Linked DNA regions of Homo sapiens: region 2 is linked to region 1. Evidence: fine-mapped expression QTL. Tissue or cell type: thyroid. Region 1 holds a variant in brackets; the other region holds the start of a gene. All regions are shown on one strand. Distances are between the middles of the regions.

The links. PIP is the estimated chance that this variant, and not a neighbour inherited with it, causes the effect.
Region 2: it holds the start of DMRT3, and the variant in region 1 is the best candidate, but not a certain one, in a credible set for the expression of DMRT3 in thyroid (GTEx, PIP 0.84).

Annotation. Positions count from the first base shown.
Region 1 is chr9:783,358-791,461 of GRCh38, reverse strand. No RefSeq gene overlaps it. Among named protein-coding and RNA genes, the nearest start is that of DMRT1, 54 kb to the left of the region's middle. The variant T/C (reference allele first, on the strand shown) is at 4,829.
Region 2 is chr9:973,017-981,120 of GRCh38, reverse strand. DMRT3 (doublesex and mab-3 related transcription factor 3) reads right to left here and starts at 4,466. Exons shown (of 2, transcript NM_021240.4): 1 at 3,666-4,466. The coding sequence starts at 4,119. RefSeq lists enhancers at 4,299-4,798, 4,799-5,300, 5,833-7,686.

The DNA.
Region 1 (8,104 bases):
CGGGCGCAGTGGCTCACACCTGTAATCCCAGCACTTTGGGAGGCCGAGGCGGGTGGATCATTTGATGTCAGGAGTTCAAGACTAGCCTGGCCAATGTGGTGAGACCCCTGTCTACTAAAAATACAAAAACTAGCTGGGCGTGGAGGTGTGCACCTGTAGTCCCAGCTACTTGGGAGGCTGAGGCAGGAGAATAGCTTGAAACCGAACCTGGGAGGCAGAGGTTGCAGTGAGCCAAGATCGCGCCGTTGCACTCCAGCCTGGGCGACGGAGTGAGACTCCGTCTCAAAAAATAAATGTAAAAATGTGAACATTGATGTAGTATTTCCCCTACATATTTTAGTTTTACATTTCCTAAAACTACAAAAAGCAAAATAAGCAGAAAAGAAGCACACTTGGTTCAGACCTAAATGCTCTGATACCGTAGTTTCCCACCATACGCAGCAGAGCATGTGGGTTAAGAACATGGGCACAGAGGTAGTTTGGTTCACCTATGGGGGCCTCTGTAGTTCATTTAACATCTCAGAGCCTTTAGTGTCCTCTTTTTTAAAATGAGGATGGTGAGAGCCTCTTAAGATTTTTGTGGTAATATAATGAGCTACTGCGTGTAAAATTAGGTACGGCCTGGCCCAGAGTAAGTGCTCAACTATCATTAGCTGGGAGCAGACCAGGGGCTAAGGTAAGTGTATCCTCAGGAGAGTAAGCTAATCAGCCACTTTGGAGCATGCCCCCAGCTCTCACACAGGAAGATTTAGTCACTGTCCTGGGTTGACAATTGTCATATCACCCCCCACCCCCAAATTCATGTTCACCTGCAACCTCAGAATGTGATCTCATTTGGAAATAGGATCTTTGTAGATGTAATTAGTCAATTTAAAGTGAGGTCAGGCTGGGCACAGTGGCTCATGCCTATAATCCCAGCACTTTGGGAGGCTGAGGCGGGCAGATTGCTTGAGCCTAGGAGTTGGAGACCAGCCTGGGCAACATGGCAAAACTCCTCCCTACCAAAAATACAAAAATTATCCTGATGTGGTGGCGTGCCCCTGTAGACTCAGCTATTCAAGGGGCTGAGGTGGGAGGATTGCTTGAGCCCTGGAGGTCAAGGCTGCAGTGAGCCATGACCCACTGCACTCTAGCCTGGGTGACAGAGATCCTGTCCAAAAAAGCCAAAAAAAACAAATTGATGTCATACTGGATTAGAGGGGGCTAATTCAATTCCTGGTATCCTTATATGAAGAGGGAGAATGTGGACACAGACACACAGGGGACAACACCATGTGAAGACCCAGACACAGAGGGAAGAGGACCGGATGAAGACAGGTAGAGTTTGCAGTGATGTATCTACACACCAAGGAATGCCAGGGTTGCTAGCCACCACTGGAAGTGAGTGGAGACAAGGGCTCTCTTATATTCTTCAAAGAGAGCTTAGTGCTGCCAGCACCTTGATTTTGGACTTCCAGCCTCCAGAGCTGTGAGACAATTTATATTGTTTTAAGTCACCCAGTTTGTAGTAATTTTGTTACAGTAGTCCTCGCAAACCAATAGTCATTTAGCAGAGACCACACTGCATTGAGTGGGCCTTATGCCCTGCTTTCAGCTAAAGCCTCTTGCTTTCTTTAGTGGGAAATTTTAGCATGAAGGAGATTAAGAGAACAAGACTTTAGGGTTTTGACAAATGGGCTATAGCTGATACTTCATTAGATTGTCAGGCATGTGAACAGATTGAGGAGGATCTTAACATGCATTAATTACTGAACTCAGAAATGTTGCTGCAGCAGCAGCAGCACTGACAGGCTTTCCCTGTGACTTTTTTTTTTTTTTTTTTTTTTTTTTTTTTTTTTTTTTTTTTTTTTTTTTTTGGCCAAGGTCTCACTCTGTTGCCGAGGCTGAAGTGCAGTGGCACCATCACGGCTCACTGCAGTCTCAACCAGGGCTCAGGCAATCGTTCCACTTCAGCCATCCAAATAGCTGGGACTACAGGCATGTGCCACCATGCCTGGCTAATTTTAAAATTTTTTGTAGAGATGAAGTTATACTATGTTGCCCAGGCTGGTGTCAAACTCCTGGAATCAAGCAATCCTCCTGTCTTGGCCTCCCAAGGAGCTGGGATTACAGGTGTAAGCCACCACACCCAGTCTCTGTGACTTTTTTTTTGTTGGAGTCTCCCTCTGTTGCTAGGCTGGAGTGCAGTGGCATGATCTTGGCTCATTGCAACCTCCACCTCCCAGGTTCAAGTGATTCTCATGCCTCAGCCTCCTGAGTAGCTGGGACTCCAGGTGTGTGCCACCGTGCCCAGCTAATTTTCGTAGTTCTAGTGGAGATGAGGTTTCACCATGTTGGCCAGAATGGTCTCAGTCTCCTGACCTCATGATCTGCCCACCTTGGCCTCCCAAAGTGTTGGGATTACAGGTATGAGCCACTGTGCCCGGCCCCCTGTGACTTTTAAGAGTCCGTGTAGCACTGTGCAGTTAGGGTATTTTACAGTGCAAAGTGCTCATCAACAGAAAACAAGTGAGAAACCAGCACCACTCAGTGTGGTGCAGAGGTGCCACCCACACCAGCCTTCCCTCATTAGACCCTGTGCCCTGGCCTGCAGGGTATGTGCAGTGGCCCAAGAAGCAGCCGCACCCTACCATAGCATCCTAGCTGGACTCCAGCCCCGCGCAGCATCTTGTTCATTTATTTGCTTACTACACATCTATATCTCTCCTAAACTAAGCAAAATCAATTGAAGCGACAACAAAAATCTTTTCCTCCATCTTGCAGCCCTAGTTACTGCCATTTAGCCAACCACCTTTCCCCATTCAAGTGTCCATTTCCTTATTCAGCATAGATAGATGGAGCTCATTTATGTGCTGGGCGCTGGACAAGCTGGGAATAACAGCAGATACTTAGCACTCTGTTGGGCACTGTGCTGAAGGATTTGCATATATTATCCCTTCCAATATTCACAACCCCACTAAATAATATAAAATTTTCTGTTTTACAGATGAAGAAACAGGCACAGTGATGGCAGGTGACTTGTTCAAAGAGCTAGACCAGCTCAAGGCCTACGTTCTTTACCACTGAGGCCTGTGTGTCTCTTAGAGTAAGATACAATCCCACCCTCCAAGGAGCCCCTCTGGAAACTTCCCAGCACCTTTTCCTAAAAGCTTTGATCCTGGCCAGAAGACCTCAGCTTTCGTCTTTTCGTCTATAAAATATGAACTCTAATACTCTCAGCTTCTTAGAACTGTTGAGTAAGTAACGTGATGCTTAAGAGTGATAAGCCGAGCGCTCCAAGGTGTCTGTTGAATGGAAGTGACAACAATTTATATTAATTGATTCCAAATGTGTATTCATTTATTGTCATGGAATCAGGTGTGTTCAGCTCAGTTTTGTGGGTTCAAGGTCATGACACCCCTTTCTGTCCTGCTCTCTGCTACATACTGGGCAAAAGGGGCCTCAAAAGGGTGGCCTCCCCTGCTACAGAAGCTTGTGATAGGATAAGACCACATAGATGAGAAGAGAGCTAAGATTTTCTCAATCCTTTTCATCTTTCTTCGACCAAATGCATCCTGCAAACGAACTGACTATATACAGATATCTTCGCAAGCTCTTGAAGACCCCAAACAGTACCTTTTGGAGGGTGGCTATTATGGGCTGAATTGTGTGCTCCCCACCAAAATTCCTATGTTGAAGTCCTAACCTTGCAGGACCTTAGAATGTGACTATATTTGGAGATAGGGTCTTTAAAGAAGTACTTCCATTAACATGAGATAAATAGAGTGGGCCCTGATCCGGTATGACTGGTGGCCCTCTAAGAAGAGGAAATTTGGCGGGGCACGGTGGCTCACGCCTGTAATCCCAGACCTTTGGGAGGCCAAGGTGGGCGGATCACCTGAGGAGTTCGTGACCAGCCTGGCCAACATGGTGAAACCCTGTCTCTACTAAAAATACAAAAATTAGCCAGGCGTGATGGTGGGTGCCTGTAATCCTAGCTACTTGGGCAGCTGAGGCAGGAGAATTGCTTGAACCCAGGAGGAGGAGGTTGCAGTGAGCTGAAATGAGGCCATTGCACTCCACACTGGGTGACGAGTGAAACTCTGTCTCAAAAAAAAAAAAAGAAATTTGGATACAAACATACATGGAAAGATGTGAATATACCTGAGAAAGATGGCCATGTACAACCTAAATAGGCTTGAACAGATCCTTTTTTTGTGTGGTCTTGGAAGGAACCGACCCTCCAGAAACCTTGCTCTGAGACCCATCCTGCAGAACTGTGAGGCATACACTGTTGTGAGGCTGCCCAGTCTGTGGCGCTTTGTTCCTGCAGCCCTAGAAACCGAATACAGTGGCTTGCACATGAACAGGAACCTCTTTAGGCTCCAGAAGGTTGGGGGTGGTGGGGAGATTTTGTGGTTTAATCAGTCTTCAGGGATATCCACACAAAAAGGCCTGAACTACAGTGTGAGACAATCAGTGAAGATGCTAAGATTTATAAAACTTTTAGCTCCCAAAGGGTATTGTGGAATCAACTTCATTGAAATTCCCTAAAAACTGAGCAGACTCTCCCTTATTATGGATTAAATCACTGTAGAAAGAGTTTTGGAGTAGCTGTTAGGAAGATGCTTGATTTTTAGTCCTTTCTGCGCTAGTATTAGGATGGGCTAGGTTATGCTGTAGAAACCTACAAGCTAAAAATTTCAGTGGCTTAAAATGACAAAGACATTTTTGCTTTTTTGTTTTTGAGACAGCTTTGCTCTGTTGCTCAGGCTGGAGAGAAGTGGCATGATCTCAGCTCACTGCAACGTCTGCTTCTGAGGTTCAAGTGATCCTCCCCTCTCAGCCT[T/C]CCAAATAGCTGGGACTCTAGGTGCATACCCGGTTAATGTTTGTTTTGTTTTGTTTTCGTAGAGACAGGTTTTACTTTGTTGCTCAAGCTAGTCTTGAACTTCTGAGCTCAAACAATCCAACCCCCTCAGCCTCCCGCCGTGCCGGGATTGTAGGGTGAGCCACTGAGCCTGGCCTGTGGGGTTTTTGCTCATCCAACTTGTCCATCAGTGCACTGTTGGCTGGAGGCTCTGCTTTGCATCCTTCCTGCAGGCCCCAGGCTAAAGGAGCAGCCACTCTGTAGAACGTTCCCAGTCATTGTAAAGGGAAAGGGAGCTCTCGAGGGTCTCACACTGACAATTACGTACTCAGGCTCAGAAGTGACATATGTCACTTCTGCTCATGATTCATTGGTCAGAACTAGTCATTCAGTCTCTACCAACTACAAGGGGAACAGGAAGTGCAGCCCTACCCTGTCCCCAGAATGAGAGAGAACTAGAATACTTAGTGAACATCACTGATAAGTCTAACAGTCGACCCATCTGGTAACCAAATATTCAATTCAGCCCTCCTTCCCATGCAATATACCCATCCCCCTCCCATTTCCTAGGGAGCCCCAGCGTCCCATCCAGTTTCAGTATTCAGCTCAAAGTTTAGGATGTCATGATGGTGTCTACTTTAGTGAATGAGGCACAGTCTCACTGATGTGGAGTACGGCTCCTCTTGATTTTGAAACCAGCGAACTAGGAAAATGAGCTATTCGTGTTCTCTCTCTAAAAATGCAATCGTTGAATAAGGCTGGGATAACAGCATTAAATGCTCCCAGTGGAAATGGGAGAAGTGGGAGATATACAGCATTTGCTGGTCCATAGCAATCCTGAAGTAGACTAAAGGTGGGCGGATGTTCCGAGACCTCCACTCTTGCAGAGACGGTATGTTTCTTGAATCGGCAGCCCTGGGTCAGCTCCCACGAGTTGTTCCCTGTCTGTGTTCTCCATGGCCTTTGGTTCTGCTTTGTTTTTTCTTTACTTTCTTGGGTATCATCTGAAGAGGGCATAAATGAGATGATCTGTTATATATTATGATATATATGACATATTTGAAAGAATACACACAGGTTTTCATCCACATTTCCTGGCTCATAACTCCCATAGCCCTTGTTATAATGTTAGGGCCCTTTAGGCCTTAGAAAACAGAATCTCTCTTTCTCTTGCCCTCCATTCACTTGCTCGTTTTCTTTCCAAGGCAGGAATGTCCCCCAGCCTTTCGGTCTTGAAGCTGACTATAAAGAAATTCTCTGATCTATCTTGTCTGATTATAGGCCATAAGATGTAAAGAAAGGGTCCTGCCCCATACCCAGGAGGAAGGAATGCTGCACAGAGAGGCCAGGAAGAATCTGAACAGACAGGCCTTGCTGGGTTTCCCCACTCAGTCTATTAGTATTTATTAGATCATACCTTTTTTGTCCAGCCAGTTCCACATGGCTATCCATCTTTCAGTCATGCCTATCAAACGAAGTCTCTGTAAAAGGCCCAAGGGGGTGGATTCTCCATACCTCTCTAAAAGTATGGAGAACTTCTGGATAGCTGAATACGTGGAGGTTCCTGGAATGCAGTGTCCTTAGGGAGGGCATGGAATCTCCATACCCCTTCCATACATCTCTATGTATCTTTTTATCTGTATCCTTTGTAATATTCTTTTTTTTTTTTTTTTTTGAGATGGCATCTTGCTGTGTCACCCAGGCTGGAGTACAGTGGTGTGATCTCAGCTCACTGCAACCTCCACCTCCCGGGCTCAAGTGGTTCTCCTGCCTCAGCCTCCTGAGTAGCTGGGGTTACAGGTGTGCACTGCTATGCCTGGCTAATGTTTTTGTATTTTTAGTAGAGACGGGGTTTCACCATGTTGGCCAGGTTGGTCTCGAACTCCTGACCTCAGGTGATCCACCCGCCTTGGCCTCCCAAAGTGCTGGGATTACAGGCGTGAGCCACTGCACCTGGCCTGTAATATTCTTTCTAATAAACCAGTAAACCTAAGTGTTTCCCTGAGTTCTGTAAGCCATCCTGGCAAATCAGACTCAAAGAGGAGGTTGTGGGATCCCCAATTTACAGCTAGTTGGTCAGAAGCATGTAACACAACCTTAGGCTTTCAACTGGCATCAGAATTGGGGACAGTCTTGTGGGACTGAGCCCTCAGCATGTGGTGTCTGACACTGTCTCCAGGTAGAGAGTGTTGGAGTTGAACTGGATTGGAGGATACCCAGATGATGTCACTGCATGTTGATTTACTTGCTTGGCACGTAGGGAAAAACCCCTACACATCTGGCCACAGAAGCCCTCAGTGTTGATTATTGTGGAATGAGCATAGAGGAAAGACAGTTTGTGATTTGACCTCACAACCTCCTTGGGGGATGAACAGCATTCTCTGACTGGTTGCTGCTCCACAGTGATGGTGGGCGGCGGGGAGGGGAGGAATAAGTGAACTAAGGACTGGGGAGGGGAGAAGGAAAGGGGAAAATGGGGAGAAGCTGGCCAACAGGTACCAGGTTTCAATTAGATAGAAGTAAATTCTGGTGTTCTTTTAGTCAGGTGACGGTGATTAATGGTAAGGTACTGAATATTATAAAACAGCTAAAATAGAGGCTTTTGGATGTTCTCGCTGCAAAGAAATAAGTGCCTGAGGTGACACATTAAAAACCCTGATTGGATCGTTATACAGTATATAATATCAAAACATCAAATTGTATCGCATAAATATCTATAATTACAAGATGTCATTACAAGGATCATTTAAAATCTCCAGCAGTCACAAACATTTTTAGGCTAGGCTAGTGCTTCCTTTAAAAACACGGTTAACTTCTTGACTATTTTAGTCTAGTCGGTGCTGAGGCTAAAGCAGCTCCATCTTTGATGCTAATCTGCCACGTTGACTTCTTCAACGCTAGTCCCGGGAATGCCTGTAAGATTTCTACTTTCATGTACCACAAATCCTGCCATTAGATTGTTTACCTTGATGTTAATGTAAACACATACTTACCATAAATACTGCCGTGAGGCAAATTCCCTCTAATATATAAGCCCTGGGTCTGGGATGGGGGTAACAGAGAGGGGACACCCCATCTCTTCGCCTGCAGCCTGAGGCATGGCTTGTGTTTTTAAGGGCCTATTACATTTTTGTTTTGTTTTTTGTTTTCTTCCCCGCTGAGAAACTGGATTTGTTGCCTCCTCCTCTGGCCCCTCAGCTTCCTCAGACTTTGAGGGTAGGTTTACATAGACCTGCTTAGCACAGAACATTTTCAGGT
Region 2 (8,104 bases), 190 kb before region 1:
ATCTTGTTTGCTCCGCCCCCACCCCCTAAGAAATAAACAGGAAAGAAGATCCTACTTTCCCATTTGATCCTTCTCTCTTATTCCTAACCATGTTTTCGATTTCTTTTTCCTTTTAAAAGCATTTAAAAGAATGTGTGTACATATTCATTTTGATGGCAGATGGAGACCTAGGAAGAGTCTACAGCCACAGATCTTTCTTCTCATCGCACCACAGTCTAAGGTGTCCGAGGACACTCCCCTGGAGGAAAAGTTGGGGGTAGGGAAGGGAGCCACAACACAAGAATGTAACTTTAGCTTTTCACCTTGGCAGTGACCCTTAACTTCCCTCAGCTCTTGAGCCCACGTCCTGAAAGGCTGGCTAGGCTGATTAAAACTGCTGATTCAGATACACTAACAGTTGGAAGATCTTCATGCCTCCTGTATTTTCATGGGGAGAAGGAGTATGAGAAGAACATAGAGGGAATTTAGGAGAAGAATAAATGAATTAAATAGTGTATGTATATATACATATATATATACACACACATATATAGCTTAAATTAGAATTTAAATTTAAGCTATATATATAGCTTTTAATAGATATATATAGCTTAATATATCTATACATAGCTTAAATCAAAATGTTCAGCTCAATCAAAATCTAATAATTAATTCCAGGTCCATCGTAGATGGTAATCAAAGAGAAGGAGAAATCTACATTCAAAAAGAAAAAAGAATACTTCATAACTAGAAGTAAAAACCACTAGAATATGAAAATTCTCCTTAAAAACACCACACATTGAAAGGGATATTCAACATACTACACCATTAGATAAAATAACCCCATTCCTTTAAAGAATCTAAAGCAGAATTTGAGAAAAAATTCTTCCAGTTACAAAACTGAGTTTTGATGTGAATATGTCACTCCCTCAACGGGGTGGTTTTCCTCCAGTGATTCACAGCAAACATACTCTTCCTTAAGGCATGTGCTTTTCTCAAAGATTTCTGGAGAGGAAAGACTCCATGTGCTTCTGTTTACAAGAAAAAAAAATCTCTCTTCACAGCTTATGTATTAAAGAGGTCCTTTGCCCCGCAAAAAGACTAACCACATTTCAAAGTCAAAGTTCACAAAGTAATAGATCTACATTGCCAGCAGATATTGAAAGATTTCTGATGGTCTGTATACTTAATGTACATGTGGAACTACCATTCCAATAGAGTTCTGCTTACTCTCTGCACTTAGTTTTGCTTACTCTCTGCACTTATTCAGGAGTAGTTCTGATATGCTTCTAAATACATATGGAATGTTATACACAAATACATTATTAGAACAACTGCAAAAAGGGTATAATACCTATAGCAACAGGCAGTCTCAGTGAGCAGTTTTCTTCAGCTTAAACCCCAAATAGACTTTATTTCTACAAGCACTGTGTAGAATGGATCCACTTGTATGCCTGTCTTCCTAAACAATCATCTATTATTTTCCTACCTTTCTCCCCACTCCCCATCAGAGTGGTGATTTGCTTTTTTTTAAAAAAATGGGAATTATGGGGTCACAGCAAGTGAAAGAAGAAAACAAAAGTTGTGTACATCAATGTACAAGGTATGGGGGGGTGGGGGTGACCAGCTGGAAACTGAGCCCTTGGTCCCTGATGCCTCGGTCCCCCAAAGTCCTCACTTGGACCTCGCCTTGTGATAAATCCTATTCTCCTTTGCAATTACTTGTTTTCAATTCGGAAGGCTCAGGCTATCCCTGAGTGCTAAGTAGGAGTAAAACAGCACAGCTCTGCTTTGTCCAGTTGAGATCCGTTTCCTTTTTCTATTCTCCCAAAGCACGTATCCTGCTGCCGCTGCCTACTCTGCCTTCCTGCCTGCCCTCACTCCTCCTCCTCCTGGGGTTGTGTTTTTAGTTTTGTGACTCTTTAGAAATCATGAACTTTAGCTATCCCAAAGAATACTCTGAAGAACACAGGATGTGAAAGGCATCTCCTTGGATAAAAACCACAGAACCCAATGCCCGATCACAGGAGTGCTGCTGAGTTAACCTCTGATGTTAACTCAGGCCTCTGCCCTAGTCCTGGGGGAAACGGAACCAGAGAAGCTGGAAATGGAAAAAAATTAAGAAAATATATTGGTACAAATCCAATTCTAGAGCTGAGACCAAACTCTTCCTTGTTATTTGTTCAAACCTATGGGAGAAAAATAATAAAACCTTTTTCTCCTCCCTCCTCTTCGTCTGTGACAAATCCATAAATATAAAAAGATGAGACAGACAAAAGAGAGACAACTGGCGATCATTTCTGAGAAACGTTTATATGCTAACTTGGATTAAATATCCACAAAATCCAAGTTCGGCAAACTCTCTTCAGGCTTTAAAATTCCCAGCTCTACTGTCACACAGGCTGTTCTCAGAGCTTCAGGCCTGGAAAGCATGGCGGAAAGACAGGGCAGCAGAACTCCACCTGCCAGTCACCCGTTGACTCACCATGAAACAGGTGAGTCCGCCTCACTTCCTCAGCTCCACAGGATCCAGACAAAGCAGTCCTGGGCTCCTGAAAGCCTTTCTCCGAAGCTAGGGGTACCGTCTTTAGGGAGTTGGCAGGTCAGTGTAGGTACCAGTTTTGCCACAGTTCTACTTACAGGAGGGCTCTGGACCTTCCCACTCCTAATTCCAGCATGCCCCCTTCCGGGAGAAGGTGGGCTGTGTTCCTTTGCACATTTGCCCCAGTTAAGGAGAAACACCAAACACATATCCACTGAATTCCAAGAGCCATCAAAAGAGCTCTTGAGCTGGGCAGAACCGCAAGCTAGAAATTCCCCAGGAAGAGAGAGACTAAGAGACTCAACTCAGGCCTGCCAAGCTCAGGAGGCCTGGATGGAAACGGATGGGTGGTGGGGGATCAGATTTTTTGTATTCCTTTAAACCACGAAGACAGCTGAGGGCAGCCTGGGGAACAGTGTTAAAGGATCTAGGAGGTTCTGCAAAGGAGTGAATTCTGGGCGCATCAGATTCTTTTCCCGCTATCAGCTCACAAGCCTTTCCGGACCCTTTTACTATCATTGCTAAATGGAACTTATTTCACCAGTTACAAGAGTCTGGAGGCCACGGAGCAAAGCTAGAAAGGCCAGGGTTCTGAGAGTTGGATACTTGTCCTCACTCAAATTTTCCTGGGCCCTGGGCAGGGCCGGGCCGGCCGAGAAGCACAGCCAGCTCGACTCAGCCGAGTGTTGGCCTTGGCTCCTTCCCTACACCTACCTACCCATTCCAACCCCCAAATGGCAAGGACCTCTAAAGCCTGCAGCCAGGAAAATCCGACCCCACCGTAGTGAGTGTGCGCACGTGGGTTTTAATTTTGTCCTGTCTCAACTCCGTTGTCTCCCTGCTCAATCTGACACGTTCCGAACCCTTCAACCTGGGAAGGCACCTGGCGATACTGACGCACAGTCCCGTCGTTTGGCTGCCCGGAGGCGCCTTCCCTGCGGGCGCGAGTGCCACTCGCGCTGGGTCCAGACTCAGCCGGCTTCTCCCGGGAGAGGAAGCCCCGGCCTGGCGGAGAGTAGGAAGGAAAGCCCCGACAGGCCCACGTCCCAAAACTTTGCCTCCAGTCCTCCCAAGTGGAGCTGCAGCTGGCACTCCGAAGTTGCCCCCGCGCCCGGCCAAACTCCCGCACCTCAGACGCTCTTACCTGGCTTGGCGAGCTGCGCCTGCAGAGCCCCGGGCTGCGGCTCGGCAGTCCAACGCAGCGCGGCGGCCGCGGCCAACTCGGCAGCAGGGCGCGGCGGCTGCGGCTGCGACGGCTGAGAGGCTGGCGGCGGCTGCGGGGCGGCGACGGCGTCCCCCGGCGGCGGGGGCCCTGGCAGAGCGCGCAGCGAGTCGGGGATGAGGCTCTCCAAGCTCTCGTTGGCCTGCTGCCGGCGCAGCGCCACCTGCGCAGCCATGACCCGCTGCCGCTCGATGATGAGGATGCACTTCTCGCAGGTGCAGTCCTTGAAGCGGCAGTAACGCTTGTGGCCCTTGAGCCAGGACAGGACGCCATGGTTGCGGCAGCGCGCGCACTTGGGCGTGCGCTGCAGGGGCGCCCGTGGCGGCTGCGACACCGGGCCGCCCATGTACAGGTAGGGGGAGCCGTAGCCGTTCATGCCCCGGGCTCCCGAATGAGTTGGCAGCCTGGCTGCGGGAGAGGGCCAGGGAGCGCTGGACGGCGGGGCTGCGAGGCCCGCTCAGGGGCGGCCTCCGGGCGACGCGGCCCTTGGTCCCGCAGCCCCGGTGGTCGTGTGTGCTCCGGGGCGGCCGGAGGTGCCGCAGTCGTCTCTCCAGCTCCCTTCGCGCTCACAGCTCGGCCTCCCAGCTCACGCCCAGCCAACGCCGACGCGGGCCTCTGCCTTGGGCGCGCAGCCGGGTCGGCACGTCCTCCTTCGCGGAGGCGCTGCGGCGGCTGCAAGGAGCCGGCGACAGCTCTGATTAAGGTCTGAGCCAGCTCTTCTGCAGCTCCCTCGTGAGCCGGCCGGACCCAACACCTCCGCCGCCCTCCCCCAACCCCTCCTCCTTCCCACCGCCACCCCCGCCCCTGGGGTCCCTGTCTCCTTGCACTCCCCGCCCCACGCCTTCCTCCTCCTTTGCGCCCCTCGGGTGCCTGCACTTCACCTTCCTTGCCACCTGCAGCCAGGCCACTCTCGCGGGGGCGCTCGCGGCCCCCTCCTCCAAGCCCTCTCCGCTACCCCAGCCCGCGGCTGGAGACTGCGGCGCTCCAGAACGCGGCGGTGCTCGCGGGGCGGAGAAGGGGAGGACCAGCGGGAGTGAGGGTGGGGGTGCCTGTAAGCGAGTGAGGTGGCCGCTCCGCTTCTCTCTCTTCTCCTCCCTCCAGTCCAGATCTGGCCGCGTTTTTCCGAGCCCAAGGCCGCTTTTATCCCGACATTTGGCCGCAGAAGCTCAGCTCCGGGAGAACTCGAACCTACGGGAGTGTTGCGGTTGCACCCCGGACCTGGGTGGAGTTTAGGATAGGGGAGTGAAGTGATGTTGGTTTAGGAAAGTTAGGCTCTTTTCGTAATTTCCTTTTAGAACGTATTTTTTTCTCTTTTGTTGCTTTAGAAGAAAATGGTTTTGGAGATCTGCCGGCCCAAGGATGACAAGCCATTTTGCAGGCGAATTTTACTTTTCTACCCTCCTGTCCATGTTTTAATATAAAACAGTATCCTGAAAGGTCAGGGACGTACGTGCTCCTGTAAAGGATTTGTTAAGCGCCGGGTATAAACTTTCAAGGGGCAGACACAGAAGCCACATTGGCGCCCCCAAAGTTACCGATATCCTCTTCCCTCGCTCCCAGCAGCTACTGGAAGCAAACGGAGGTCTTGCGCCAGCCACTCAGTTCAAATCCCCACGGATTCTGTGATTCAGTTATGGATATGGGATGGGGCCACTTTTTCACCTCCTTAACCCATAGACCCCAGTCATAGATGTCTTGGGGGAGAGGGTCCTTCACAAGATGACAGCAGAAAACTTTGTTTAGATTATTTGCGTGTTCCCATTCTCCCAGGAGTAGCGGGCTTGGCCTAGTGCAGACTATCGCTATATATGCACAAAGAAGGCCCTCCACCCTCGCACCTCCCCACTGCCCATCAGCAAACAAGCAAAAACCAAAAAACAAACAAACAAACAAAACAAGTGGATACACTGCAGGGCAGCACAATAGCTCTATGCGAAGCGGGGCAGTTCCAGAGCCTTCGGTGGATGCGCTTCTGAGAGCGTGCACCAAGCCCATCTCCTGGTGGGGAATCAAATGCTAGATGAGAGCGTAGGCAAGTCCGCTGCAATGTCCGACCCCTCATGGGCACAGAGGCCCTTGTCCCCTCGGGGAGGCCGCTTTTCTCTGTACTGCCCTGGAAGTAAGCAAGCAACCTGAAAACTTTCCTCTGGTGTTTGCCATGAATTCAAGGGAAGCACCTCCAGGCGTTCTAGCAGCCAACCCTCTGCCCAGAAGGCTGATTTGCGGAGAGGAGGGTTGAAAACCGAACCCCAGTTGTGTGTTTCCCTTGAAGCCCTTAGCTGTTCCCGTTTCATACGCGTCCGGGAGGTGGGGATCGCGGGACACTGACCTGGTAGAGTGTGGACAAGAAGCTCTAGCATTCGAGTGCTAACCCTGGGAGGCCATCCTCCAAAGCCGCGTGGGGTAGGGACCCCTCGGTCTTGCCCCTTCCCCCACCACTTTAATCCTTCCTCTAGTCTCAACCTTCTCTAGGAAAACAAGCCCTAAAATACAACTGGAAGGAATTTTGTAAGCTCTGGGGACGGGAGGCAGAGGTCGCCCCCAGCCCTGTAGGCCCGAGGCTAGGAAATGGGGAGCTGGACGCGAGTCATTTAACGTGCTGCGATATAGAGGGCCTCAAATGACACCTTAACTGAAAACTATTGCGCTGAAACCTCCGGATCTCTTGGAAACGTGGGGACCAACGACTTTTTTCAAAACCAAATTTCTTCCGATTTTCTTCAAACAGTGAAACGAGGAAGTATAAAGAACTTGAGTATGAATAAATTTTTAAAAGGAAAGCAGAAGAGCTCTGCACCAGGTTTGTGGGGGCACTTTCACTACCAAGGCGACCCCTTTTCCCCCGTCGGTCACCTAGCCACCCTATCTCGTTGCCACTCAAACAGTCTGGCATTTGGTCCCGGGGGCCCGTTTCACTCCGGTGCACATCGGGGGCTGAGATCTAAATACTCATTTGATATAGTGCAGTAATCCTTTTCTCATATTTGATGGGAATGTTTTCCATATCCCAGTATTTGACAACATCTCCCTATAGGGACAGGTTTGTATTTATGTTGGTAAAATGTCCCCTGCCTCAAAGTCTATTGTAACCCAACACCTGACAACCCCGAGTCCCATTTCTGTTTGCAGAAAGGGTTTATTCAAGCACATAATGGGATCCCAGCAGAAAGCCTTTCAGAACAAGGGGCTGTGGTAAACTTCACCACATGAACTCCGTTTCCAGGGCTATTAAGCTTTTAATTGGAAAATAGCAGAGGAAATTTCAAGGTGACTATAACGTGTTAGCAGTTAGTGCAGAGAAGAAAAGCCGAAGCGGGAATGAATGTAGAAAGCATATGGTCCAAATCACATTTAGGAGGAGCGGCCTGCTTCTACTAAGTCCCAGTAGCTTACACACTTATGGGAAAAATCATCAAAGAAATGGGAAAGGGAAGGGGGAGGATTACAAGTAAATGTAACCTCACTAGACTAGATCCATTGGTGCTCTCCTGTGGATGGTGTGTTCTCAAACCGCAATTAACTGAGTAGAATTCTGGCAGATAATCGTGGAAGAGGAAAAAACAATGTGCGTATGTGGGTCTTTCTCGGCACACACAATCGCTGGGTGTGTGTACATGTAAAAGCTCAGGATGCAGGTGCCCTTGCTGAGAAAGTGAGGACTCCAGATCTGGGAGTCCTGGTATGTGCTCCTCATCCCAACTAATACTCAATCAAAACGGCAGTTTCCGATTGTCCCGGATGTATAACACATCAGCAAATTCTCTGCTGGATTCTCATGGAAGGGGAGGTCAGGGTTCCTATTTCACTGTTTTCATCGCGACCACGATGATGTCAGTGCAGGCAGACGCTGGAAGCCTGAGCGTGAGGAACCCCTGTGAAAACAGAAAAACTTGTCCCCTCTTCCTGTGCGTGAACTACTCAGCTCTCACCTGGTCAGCTTCTCGACCTCGCTCTTCGGCCCGCTTCAAATTGAAAGGAGTTGGGGGAATGTCCAGCCAGGCAGTGGGGCATCCAGCAATCAATTTCTTTAGATGGCAATAATGTCTTGGTTCTCCCTCAGTTGGCTGGGGACAGACTCATGCAAACCCCCCATGAGATCCCCGAAGCCGCCCTCCGGGGCGAGGGGTGGAAAGCAGAGGCCGCTTGGGGTCGGGGAGACGACTGAACCCCGGGGTCACCGGCCCGGGGATACCGCTGAACAGGGGAAGGTCCTGGACCGCTGTTCCCACATAATTTTGGTAGGGGAAGAGACGGGTCGCAGCCTGAGGCCTGCTCCAGATCCCCACGTGCCGAGGCCTTTGGGGACAAACAGGGAGAGCAGAACGGCCTGTGACCTCGCTGGCCCTAAGCCGACCGGGCGG